3 separate regions of the Homo sapiens genome follow, and regions 2 and 3 are each linked to region 1. The links come from fine-mapping of genetic effects on gene expression. A gene starts in region 1. Each other region holds a variant in brackets. All regions are shown on one strand. Distances are between the middles of the regions. Region 1 holds the start of CHD7 (chromodomain helicase DNA binding protein 7). Region 2 overlaps CHD7 (chromodomain helicase DNA binding protein 7). Region 3 has its middle 270 kb from the start of CHD7.

The links. PIP is the estimated chance that this variant, and not a neighbour inherited with it, causes the effect. A credible set is the group of variants that fine-mapping cannot tell apart.
Region 2: its variant is the best candidate, but not a certain one, in a credible set for the expression of CHD7 in whole blood (TOPMed, PIP 0.71).
Region 3: its variant is the best candidate, but not a certain one, in a credible set for the expression of CHD7 in blood mononuclear cells (TOPMed, PIP 0.53).

The regions. Positions count from the first base shown.
Region 1 is chr8:60,676,348-60,680,590 of GRCh38, reverse strand. CHD7 (chromodomain helicase DNA binding protein 7) reads right to left here and starts at 1,851. Exons shown (of 38, transcript NM_017780.4): 1 at 1,509-1,851. RefSeq lists silencers at 374-743, 1,404-1,503, 1,864-2,303.
Region 2 is chr8:60,816,398-60,820,640 of GRCh38, reverse strand. CHD7 (chromodomain helicase DNA binding protein 7) reads right to left here. Exons shown (of 38, transcript NM_017780.4): 8 at 4,140-4,243; 9 at 551-634. Among named protein-coding and RNA genes, the nearest start is that of CHD7, 140 kb to the right of the region's middle. RefSeq lists an enhancer at 3,550-3,649. The variant C/T (reference allele first, on the strand shown) is at 1,942.
Region 3 is chr8:60,947,205-60,951,447 of GRCh38, reverse strand. No RefSeq gene overlaps it. Among named protein-coding and RNA genes, the nearest start is that of CHD7, 270 kb to the right of the region's middle. RefSeq lists an enhancer at 369-628. The variant G/A (reference allele first, on the strand shown) is at 1,899.

The sequences.
Region 1 (4,243 bases):
AGCGGGCGGCCGGCCGGGAGTTTGGGGTGCGCTCCCACGGCTCCGGGCTCCTCGAGGCAGAGCCATCCGGAGAAAGGCGGCTCGGTAATGATGGCTGCTCGGGGCCGGCGGCTCCTTCCCCAGAGCCTCCCGACCAGCGCCCCCACCCCCGCCCGGGAGCCGCCGCCGCCGCCGCCCCCGCCCCCCCCCCCCGCGACCTCGACAGCCCCGCGCCGCCGCGCCCGCCCCGCACCGCAGCCCAGCCGGTGCCCGCGCCCCCGCCCGAGCCCCGCGCCCCCAGCGAGCCCAATCCCCGGTGCGAACCAAACAAACAACGCGTCCCCCACCGCCCTCCTTTCCTCTCCCCGCTGACCGCTTGGCCTCCAGCCACCTCGGCCGTTCACGCTCCAAGCCGCGGCTCTCTGCGAGGGCAGAGCGCACCCGGGTCACCTCGGGGGCCACCTGGTGACCACCCCCCACCGGCGCTGACCCCCGGCGGGTTGGGGGGCGGGGGAGCCGAGTTGCGTTGGAAGGTTAAAGTCGCTATTATGCAGCTGCCGCCGCCGGCGGCCCGGCCAGCTCGACAAGGTGGGGTCCCCTCCTCGCCGCGCCTCCCGGCGCTCGCCCCGGCCCCGCTCCCTTTCTTCTCCTCCTAGCGCACTTGGGAGCCGCCGGGGAGCCCCAGGAGCCCCCAACTCCGGGCTCGCAACTCCGCGCCCGCGACCGGCACTGGCTGAGCTCGGGACGCCTCCCGCGCCGCGTGTTCGCGCTGCCCCCGCCCCACGCGGCGCCCCGCGCACTTTCCCCGCCGCCGACCCACCTCGCTCGGTGGCGGTCCCCGCGCGGGCTGGCGCCGCCGCGCCGGGAGGAACGCACTTTGTTCGCGCCGGTGCGGCCGCAGCTCCCGGCGAGCGCGGCGTGGTCGGTCCGGAGCGGGGGGCGGGGGCGGGAGGCGGGGGTCGCCGCCGTCCCCGAGCCGCCGCCGCCGCTGCTCAGCCGCCCCGCGCCCGCGCGCCCATCGCCCGCTCGCACTTGAGTTGGAGCCCAACTTTTCCTCCTTCCTTTTTCTCTCGAATGGAGCCGGCAACTCGTGCTCGGCGCCGGCGGGAGGAAACGCGCTCGCGCTCCCCCGCGCGCAGACACGCTCCCTCCTGTCCCCCGTACCCCCCCCCCACGCCGGCAGCACAACAAAAAGCCATTTACATGCGAGGAAGTGACCCTCGGCCGCACCGCGCGCCCCCGCCGCCGCCGGCCCGGCGGACGCAGGCAAAAGTTGGGGCGCCGGGCGGCGCTCGGGGCGCGGGTTCGGGCCCCGCGGGCGGCGACGCCGGCGACACTACGCGGGCGGCGCTGCGCTCCTGCGCTGGCCCCGGCCCCCTCCCGCCCTCGCCCCTCGCCCCTCGCCCCGCACACGCCCAACTCCTCGCTCCCAACTCCTAGCGCGGCCCCGGCCCCGGCCCGGAGCGATTTCCTGCCGCCGCCGCCGCCGCCGCCCCTCCCGGGGGCGCCGGGCGAACTCTCGCGCTCACCGGGTCGGTCGGGCTCCTCCGCTGCCTAGTGCCGAGGGGAAAACAAAACGCAGAGCGGGCTCCGGAGTTGGCTCGGCAGCTGCGGCCAGGGGGCTGAATCCACGGGCACGGAGTTGGCCGGGGGCGAACGGGTCTCTGGTGAGTTTCAGGGTGTCCGGGTCCCCGGGCCGCCTCCTCCGCGGCGCTCCTTTGTGTAATTTCACTCGATTCAAGTTTAATCCGATAGTTCCCGAGCACGAGCGCGTCCGCACCACCACGACTCAACCCCCGCGCCGCCGCCGCCGCCGCCGCTGCCGCCGCCGCCGCCGCCGCCGCCGCGGCCCCAGCACGCCAGCGCCTGCGCGCGTCCGGCACGCCGCGCGCACCCGAAGCCGCGGGGCCGCGCGCGCCCGCCGCCAGCTCCCTCCGGGCCGCGCCGCGCCCGCGCCCGCGCCCGCGCGCCGCCACCTGACGTCAGGCGCGCCTGGCATAATTTATGCAAGAATTCGGCCGGGGTGGCGGAGGCCGAGGGAGAGGCCGAGAGAAAAGGGGCGGCGCGGAGCTGCTGGGCCGCGGGCCGCGGGCCGCAAGGGCGGGCCGGGCGCCACTTCCCGTCCCCTGGCGGGCGCCGGCGCTTCAGGCGGGTCTCCCCGCCGGCCGGTGCGCTGCTGCCGCGGAGTCTTCCTTGCCCGGCTGCACGGAGCGCTCGGCCGCTGCGCCCGGGCGCGGACTGGAGGGGCTGCTGCCACGTCTCCCGCGCGGCACCTTCCCGGAGCCGGGTGCGCCGCCCCGGGGCAGGAAGCGGGGCTCCGGGAGGGCTGCGACCCTCCTGGCTGCCGCGAAGGGTTTCCGACGCTGCGCGGCCGGCGGCGGCCGGGGGTGACTGGCAGTCTCTGCAGTAATTATCCTTCAACTTGAAATTATTTTCCCACATGAAATTATTCGGAAGGGACATGTTCCATTCCAGATGGGTTCGTGCCTGCTTCTCCACATCGCTTTTCCCACCTCTTCGTGGATAGGACACCGGATCCACTACTTAATCAAAAAGTTTAACTAGATGGCATTGATTTTGTCGAATTTGTTACCATACCAAAAAAGAGAGAGAAGGCAGAGAGCTCAATGATTATGAAACAAAGAAATAGGATGTATGCCCATTATTAAACGTGTCGGGACTAGAATGTTTTACTCATTCTTTGGCCAAAATGGCACTTGTATCTGATTGCATAGTCTTAAAAATCCGAGCCTCTTATTCCATTTCTCTTCCCGGTACAAAATGAATGTTAAACCTGAAGAAAAAAAACTTTTTTTTACTAATTTTTATTTTAGGAAATAGATCTACAAACATGGATTAAGCCTCTTCTATCTGCAAAATACGGAGCAATTATAATGTGTTTAAACCATCAATTGTAAACTTTAAGATAATTTTATTAGGTTAAAGATTGCACTTATTTTAAAATCAGGAAAGGAACTCATATCAACCAAAGATTGCCCTATGGCAGGTACAGACTGACTGGTTATTACTGGACTCCAAAATAAACTGAGAAAATAGCAAAACTATGTAAAATGTACTAATCTCACTCACTGATGGTTACACTACCTGTAGTGCTAAGCCTGTAATCACAATATTGTTATTTGGACAAAAGATTAATCAAAACTATCTCATTAAGTAACTACTGCAACTATTCAATAAGTTTGATTATCCTAGACTTAATCACTAAGACATTGATTTTCTGATTTTAGTAATAATTCTATAAATATATCACATTATATTGTGGTTTGTTAAATGCACTGCTTTTAGCTTGCTTTCATCATGTATTTGAGTTTTGTTCTAAAAGAAATAAATGTTTTAATGTTTAAGGAGCTTACAGATCATCAAAAAGAACATAGAAGACAGTACAGAAAGAATTCTGGCATTTAAAAAGTTGAAACCACTAAAATCAACTTCCATCTGTTTTAAACCCGGTATCACAAACCAAGAATCACAACTCTGAGGTTAGGCTACTGTTTCCATTAAGTTTATATTTCCCAATGAAAGTATATGAAAGGTGCTTTAGGGGTGTGTGGGGCGGGGGGGTCAAAAACAGGACACAATGTCTAGAAAAAAAATCGCTAGTACCTGACTATATTAGAACACATTTTTAAAATAATGTGCCATAAAAAATTATGTCTTATCTTTTACAGTGTGCCACAGCTCGATATCAGATGTGCATCTATTTCAAGGCAATTCACAGGAGAAAAAAAATGACATCTACATATAGTGAAATTACAATATTGCAATTAACTTGTTATCAACAAATATGACTATGAGGAGATTCCCTGTGCTCTTGTACATTTAACTCGAAAGCTAGGAAACTTCCTTTTGATATATACCAGTACCCAATGTAAAAACAGTCCTACAGAATATAAGTCCTCTGACTTATAGTCTCCTTATCCTGATCACTGCCCTGAGCCATCATGAAGAAGTCTCTAAGCTTTTAGATGTTGTGGTGGTGTGGAACGTAAGGGGCCTTAAAAAGTAGAGGCCCTCAGGGGCAAACTCCTAGGCAGATCTGGCCTACCTGAGTCATAGCTCTCACCACACCACCACCATCCCCCAACACTCCCCTTTAGCCTGAAATGTTTTTTCTCCATTTGCTTCACTATTGAAGTTTTCCCAATGAGAGTAATTTGAATTCACAAGCTTTCTCTTTAAGTATGCAAATACCTTAGGGTGAGATAAGGGGCTACTGGTCTTTCACAGATGAGTGTAAATTGGT
Region 2 (4,243 bases), 140 kb before region 1:
TCACTACACTTGTCTTCATTCTTACTTCCCTATCAAATATCCCTTATAATCTTACAGAGTTTTGCAAAGCAAAATAAGAGTGTTGAGACTAGGATCTTTTAAGAGAAATAATGTCTATTAGCCTCTGTGTACCACATTAAATGAATTCATCAACTTCACTAATGATGCCCAATTCTAAATAACCTTAAACTCCATTCTGCCACAAGAGACACTCAATTATATAAGGATACTTTGTGCTACATGACAGATTTATACCAAAATGTACTGAATTCTTTATCATATTGTGGAATTGTGCAAAATGTCAATGTATTTCTTTCATATTGAAAATCAATTTTTTAAAAAAGTTCTCAGACTAAACATAAAACATATTTAGCACTATTATTAAGTCATAAAACTAATAATAAATCATTAAGTTTCAGTTAAATTTAGACCAAGTGTGTCACAGTCCAAGGCTCTGACCAAGACCAGGTCTAGGATTCTACCATCTTCTCTATAAACATGTATGGGTTGCCTGAATCACCACTTTGTAATACAAATGATCTCCTGTTACCTCTCCCCGGTCATCTGTGCTACGTGCAAAGTCCATTATCCGGTCAACCTCCACATAATCTGGATTAAAAAGCTCATCCTCAATCTACACCAAAGGGAAAAAAAAAAGTTAAAGGTTTACTTATTTCCTAAGATGAAATACTATTCCACTTTTCACCAAGCAATAATATTTTGGGTCACAGCAATATAAAACTTACATTTGGCAAATTCTATTATATTAATTGAAATGCTACAATTTAGCAAAATCACTCCCCATGAGGAAATCAGACTTCTCAGACTTCGTTAACTGGGTCTTTTAATTACCGTGTGAAACCTTTTACTGTGAGAGAATGTTTAAGAATATTTTAAATGAAGTGTGAAATTACAATTCACTAATGAGCAATCCAAAAGGCTTATGGCATGCGATGCATTTAGCATTCTCGAAACTACAGTTTGCAATGAAGAATCAGAGTCATGCAAAGTGTTACTTGGAATATTGTAACTCCTGGAGTTGTCCGATGCCTTATAGCATATCTACAAAATGTTATTCAAAAGCCAAATACACTGCAAGCAGCTAATTTCATATTTTAGCATGATCAGAGTTTATAATGTTTGGTAGTATTTGTCAACCAATATTAGTACCTCATTTAGAATCACAGTCTCATCATTAATCTGTTTTCTAATGATTTACATTGAATATAGTGTGTTTAGGCAAAAGTATTAAGGATAACGAAATGAAGCCTAAATAATTGGCTCATTTAACCAATATATTAAACAATCTTTACAAAAGTAAAGTAATACTGCTGCCTGCAAAGGTATCTCATATAAAACACTAGAATATGACTCAAAAAAAAGTTATAGGCTGGGCACAGTGACTCACGCCTGTAATCTCAGCACTTTGGGAGGCCAAGGCAGGCGGATCACGAGGTCAGGAGTTCAAGACCAGCCTGGCCAACATGGTGAAACCCCGTCTCTACTAAAAATACAAAAAATAAGCTGGGCATGATGGCAGGTGCCTGTAATCTCAGCTACTCGGTAGGCTGAGGCAGGAGAATCGCCTGAACCCGGGAGGCGGAGGTTGCAGTGAGCCGAGATCGCACCACTGCACTCCAGCCCAGGTGACAGAGGGCGACACTCCGTCTCAAAAAAAGAGTTATAGACTAAGCCATACCCAAAAGAAGTTAGGGTCAGACAAGTTTCAGATGTTAGAAAACAAAAGACACATTTTATTATGTGCACCTCTCAATTAACTTATCAATAACATAACTGCATTAAAATATTTTGCAAAAGGTAAACTAGAAGTCACTTAGACACCATTCTTATCCCTTGAATTGCAGGTGGAAAAGATAAGCAGTTCAGTCATCATCTGCTCAAGAACAACAAACTTTCTCTGGCTATTCGGCCCTCTTAAAA[C/T]ACCCAGTTGGGAAGCTTTGAACCATGAATTATGAAACAAAAAGCAGAAACACAAACATATGTCTCAAGTATCTCAGGCTTTTACACAGAGGTAGATTAGTAAGGCAAAAAAAAATCCATTGAAATGTTCAATTAATATAAAGTATTAGTGTATTAATGCACTGGCTTTTCAAAAGCTTCTAGACGTAGGTAAACACACGTGTTATCCATGTACAGCAGAAACACTTAAACTTTCCCAAAACTAGGTTTGGATGGCAAAAACTCTCTTTAGGAAAACTTGTTCTTAAACATAAGCTTTCACAGTCAGTGCTGAATTAAAATCCTTAACTTTTCCTACACATTTCTACCCTTTAAGTGAGTAATCTGCGGCATCACACATGTGACGAAATTTCCAGTCTAAATGATGTTTTTGAATAGACATTTTTAGTTGCAGCAGGCTTGTAAGGCAGCCTAAGGAGAAACAAAGAATGTAAAAGCAGCTGAAACTGAAAATCTCAAAGCAGTACAGCCATGGAACACCTGAAGCCATGATCATGTATGGGATGAAACAAACGGGGGCGTGTGCACTTTCATGTATAAAAGAGAGGGAGGAAGGGGATTGCTATCCTTCTCTGCTAACTCCCACTCAGGACAGAAACTAAGATTTCTAGCTGCCAAGTTACCAGGTAAATAATGTACATTCAACCTTGGTATGTGTAGCTAGGGCTAGGCACAATTTCCTAAAGACAGTGTGACTACAGGAGAGAGAATACAAATAAACTTAATAAACAGGACCAGGATTTAGGGATGGGGGGAAAGCTACCATTGCGCTTTTGCCTGTCTCCCTCCCCCTGGCCCACAGAAAAGGTCAGCAGAACACAGGGTGTCTCTTTCTAAAAGGAGGCTAATGATTTCAGCTCATCCAATGTCATAAAAATTTAACTCTGGTTTCATTAAGAAGGGCATGAAAAATAGAATCTCACAGCATTGTCCTCAAAATCAAATATTAAGATTCTTTCTTCAAAAGAATTTTCCTCCAAGTTCTTCTGAAGAATCTTCTTAATATTCTCCAAGATCTATGAATTGAGTCACATTCGAGTAACTCCATTCCACTCGGTCCTAAACACTGCACTGCCAAAAATGCTGCACACTCAGAGTGCCAGGGGTAGTGATGCAGACATGTGTCCAGTAAAAGAACAACCACATGATCTCCCATTGAATGCGGACTTTACCATAGGCCAGTTGGGACCATGGAAATCAGATCCCAGAAGAACACAGACTTGCTACCTGATAGTATAAGAATTTTATGACATAAAAGTACTAAGTGCTCTTCTGTCCCACTTTCCTTCATCTCCAAAAAGGGGTGGCAGTACAAAGTAGGTTGTTAAACAGATACTATTTTGCATCAAATTGTACGCTTCTTTTACATAAAGTCTACATTCTGTCAACTCTTTTAGGAAAAGAGGAACTAATAAATCAGCAAGTCTTATCTTTCAATGTTAGGGTTTTTCTTTTATCTACTTGAGGCTGTAAGTGAAACCAAATTGGCGATCCTAAGTCCAGAGACCCTAGTAAGCAGCTTGTGAAAGCACTTTTTAAAAAATGTAATTGACTATACTGAGGAGGCAGAGGGCAGAACTGGCACTTCTAGTAAATGCAGATGTTCTTCTCTGCCCTAGGTATTGCTGTACTTCTATACTGATACCTGGGATAAAGGGACACAGGCAAAGATATTATTACCAGTTTCTACACTACAGCACAGCATTTGCGAAAATGAGTTTAGTGAACTCTCTGTAATTAGGCATTGACTTCAACAAAAGAAATTTGCCACATACTTTCCCCAACAGAAGTCAAGCTTTTGTATCTTAGAACTTGTACTTAACATTGTAGATTTCTTAACCTGCTAAATCTCAATAGAACTTCTGTCCACTTACTTAATTTCATCATCTGCTAACTGTACTTTCATTACACGATTTTTATCATACCATCACCGCTATTTCCACATAATATCATAAGGACCCATATCTTCTAGCCTAAGCAACAGGAAGAATGAGAAATTTCCTGTTTACAAATTTGTTAGCAAGAACCAGTTACCAATATGCAAGTTGACAGCACCAAATGAGACTAACTAGTTTTTCTTAATTCATGGAACTAAAATTTTAAATTTAGAACATTTTAACAAAGTAAATACTTTGGAAAAGTAAGCAGGTATGTCGTACCTCTGAAAGGAACTTGTTCTGGCCCTGCTTTGCCTTAAATCGTTTAATTTTTTGCTGAATTCTCTTATCTTTTTCCAGATCTTCTATAGATGCCCACTGACAAT
Region 3 (4,243 bases), 270 kb before region 1:
GTACTATAAGAGCAGATTTCGGTAGGTGTGGCAGAAATAACAGAGTAAGGGATGAGCAAGGCATAAGGAAAGAGGTGGAACTATCATTCCAATAGAAGTAGTGCCCACATGGAAACAAGCACCCCAAACACCCACACGCACTGCATATGCCCCAGTGCTCACCTCCTGCTTCTGCTGCTCTGTCTTCCTAATCCCTCCCTTTAGTTCTGAAGCATGAAGTGCTCCCATGACTTCCCCATATTTCTCATGCCTGCTAGAAGGCCTTGACCACAAACCTACATATTTGCCTTGACCATGGCCACAAGCCCCGTGTGGCTCCCACTGACGCAGCTGACTCAACCCTGGTCTGGATGGCCCGTTTGCAGAAGGCACTTGGTTTGGCCGCAACATGAGTCATTCTGGATAATTATAAGAATTGATAAACTCTGCAGGAACCAAATTCTGCTCTCCCATGAACTAATGCTTCTGTCCTGGTCAAGGTGGATAATGGAAGGTTATGGACACCTTTCAAGCCCCGCAGAGCTCTGCAGCTCCTCTAGCCACTTGTTCCCTTCAGGAGGCCACAAATATGCCCACTCCAAATTTGCACTCCAGCATACCTTTCTCTCCTGATATAGCACATTCAGTGGATTAAGACGGACCTGGTTTAAATCGTAGCTCTCTCACTGGACTGTGTGACCTCGGAGAAGCCACCTCACTTCTCTGAACCACAGCGTCCTCACCTCCAAACTGATGATGGCAAGCCCCCTCTCTAGACTGTTGAAGTTGGCATGGCAGGCAAGGCTTCCTGGTGCTTTACCTCAGCCCCACCTCCCCACACCCTCCCACTTCCCTGCCCACTGGAACTGCTCCCTATGCCTCTGCCTTGCTTTGGTCACTTCCTTTCTTGTTTGCATTCCTCTGCTTTTCCTGCCTTCTGTCCTTTCAGTTCCGCTTCCCTGGGAAGTTTCCAACACCCAGGATTTCCTGAGTGCCATTTCCCTGTACTGTGTGGCCACCCTGCTTACCTATCTCATAGCCCTCACTCCAATGCTTCAAAATTATTTCCACGCCTCCCTGCCTGCCTCATGAGGTCCTCCAAGGTGGGAAATTTGATTCCTTGTTTGCCATTTCCAAACTCACTGCCTGGCACATTGGACTCTAATGAAGGCGGAGGGGACTAGGATAGGAGTGTTCAAGTCACAGCGTTCTTGAGTTCTGGAAATCGAGACAATTTGTCCCTTCCATTGTCTATAACTCTGCAAAATCTGACCTCTTTGAACTGAAAACTGCCCTTAAGGGCACTGTGACACAAGCCATGGCAACTCAGCAGGAAGCCTTGTGAGCACCCCACCTACGGGCACTGGCTCTGCAGCTCCAGGTTTCAAAGGCTGAAAACTGGGGGCTGTCTATCCTACAGCCCCCGTCACGTGTGTGTACAATTGGCGACCTCTCCAATACAAACAACCCAGGAAAGACAATACCAGTCTGTTCCAAAGAGAGAGGAATTCTAAGCAGTTGCTACTTCCTGGATGACTGAGTATTCTCTACCCTGACAACATGGACAGTCTGAACAGAATTTATTCAAAACAGCTTTTCCCCCCTAGTTTCAAATTAAGAGGTGCAATGTTACCTCTGACCAGTTTGCAATAGTGGTATTGCAAACAGGGAGGCTTGCCGGAGATATTTCAGTACTGCCACCTCCATGAAGTATGCAAATTCAAGTGTAAAAACCTGAAATGAGAGTGCAGGGAAGAATGCCAACTGCATGCTCACTGTTTTCTGGGAGACCTATAGGTATAATTTCTACCTCTGATCAGTGTCATTGTGCAAATGATTTTGCATGTACCATACAGACATTTATTTTTTTAGCTTGACTATCAGGCAAAGGAGGAAAACACTATGGCCTTTTATAAGGG[G/A]AAGTGTCTCCCTAAGGAAATAATTGAAGGCCTCAATTGCTCAAGTCTTTCAAAAGACACTGTACAAAGCACCCCTGAAAACACTGTGGGGAATAATTCTGTGTTCACTGGGGAACTGGCTAGATGATCTAATAGGTCGTTGCCCTCACTCTAATTTTGATGATTCATGTGTGACTTATTTAATTGTTATCTATTGCAGATATATAAAAAAATGCTTTTATTCTTTTTTTAAGAATCTAAATTCAAATCATCTTTAATATCACCAAGTTTCTACTCCCATCTCCCTTCAGAACATTGACATATTAACTTTTTGACCTACCCCAAACCCTCCTGCTACTTCCCAGAATACAAAAAGCACATCTGCCGCACAGCTGGGTGCAACGAGGAGCCCCCACGCAACAGTGCATTGAAAACAAGTTTGGGAGAACTAAGGGTTAAGTGAAGTCCCCCAGGAATTCCAATCTGTTGCAGGCTGCTAATTCAGAAGCTGCCTGGGGCCTAGGTGTAACCACAGCTAGGAAAACAATGCCTTAGCTGCCTTATCCTGAGCAGCATTTAGCATTTATCATGGTCAGAAAACCACCTGTTACTTGGGAGAGATTCAAAGGAATTCTGAGCCATAATTAAAGCAATAATGAATAAAAACATATTGTGAATTGCTACCCAAACCCCAGGCAGATGTGTTATTTAACTGTGGGCTTGATCTGCACTATTAATTTGGAATAAAAATAACAGACAACAAAACATATACAGAATCAAGACCCTGCCTGCCCCGGGGTTTTATTTCTTTTCAAGTCCTTGGCAGTTGTGGTTAGTAACCCAAATGCAAGCAGAGCTGACTTTCTTGCAAACTGCAGTGGTGTCTGACAACACAGTAGAACAGAGCTGGCAGCCAATCGGAGTCAAATGAATCGCTGGATCCCTGTACAGATCCATAAATGACAGTTGAAGGAGATGGGCTAGTGGCATGTGCCAGTTGGGTTTGCATCCTCCCACTTCTGAGGCCTTTTGACCCGGCTGAAGCCAGGAGCAGATTTTCTCCCCCAGGGGAATGCACACCTGAGTACTCGGATCTGGCCAGGAGATAATCCTGGTTGTTTCACTGGGAAACATCTGAAAACACATTTCTCTGACTATCTGTAGAACTGCAATTAAACACAGAAACTCGACCAGGCATAGTGGCTCACCCCTGTAATCCCAGCATTTTGGGAGGCTGAGGCCAGCAGATCGCTTGAGCCCAGGAGTTCGAGACCAGCCTGGGCAATATGGCCAAACCCTGTGTCTACAAAAAAATACAAAAATTAGCCAGGCATGCTGGCAATTAGCACCTGTAGTACCAGCTAATCGGGAGTCTAAGGTGGGACGATGGCTCGAGCCCAGGAGGTGGAGGCTGCAGTGGGCCAAAATCCCACCACTGCATTCCAGTCTGGGCAAGCGAGACCCTATCTCAAAAACAAAACAAAACAAAACAACTCACAGGTAAGGAACAGTGGCAGGGAGAGGTCATCTCCTACTTAAAAGTTCTGTTCTGTTTGGCAGTGACTAGTTTGTTATTAAGGCTCTGACTCCATCTCATTAAGCTCTTTCCAAATCTTCTGAGAGGAACATGCTCTTGAGAGGGTGAGGGGAAGGACATGGGGCTGTGAACTGAAGAAGAGGGGGCAAAGCAATTTTGTGGTACGCGGGTGTTCATAACTTTGTACTACACTTTACCCTTAACAAAATTCAGATTCAGTTGACAGATCTATGCAAATGTATGAAAAGTGGAAAAAGACAAGCTAGCATTTGTTTCAGAGGTTGAAAGCATCACTTTGATTTGCAATGATTTCCAATCTACCTCTTTTTCCACAAGGAAAAATTGCAAAGACAAGATCCCTAAATGTCACAAAATAAAGCCTGCCAATGTTCTGTTGGCATATAGTTTAATTCTTGAACAATTACCCTGCCATATACATTTATTCTTAAATTTTATATATTGACACATTGAATTTTGAAACTGAAAGAGAAAATGACACATGTAAATACCCTCAAACTCAGAACTGACTTTAAAATTCGATCTATTACTGTGTATGCATGAGTGTGTGTGTACTAAATCTATGACAAGTGCAAGTTGCTGGTTTATTGCAATTGACTTAATATCACTCTCAAAGACTGAGTGTACATTCTCATGCCCTGAAAAAGTTTTGAGTAGATCTCTTCTGGGACAGGCTATCGTGTATATTTAAGACATGATCTCTACAATAGTAAAAATACATTGCACTATTATGAATTCCTAGCTGAGAGTGGTCTTTGTGTGGCTGCAGGCATACTACCACCCTGCAAAGGCTCTCCATTGCCATTCACGT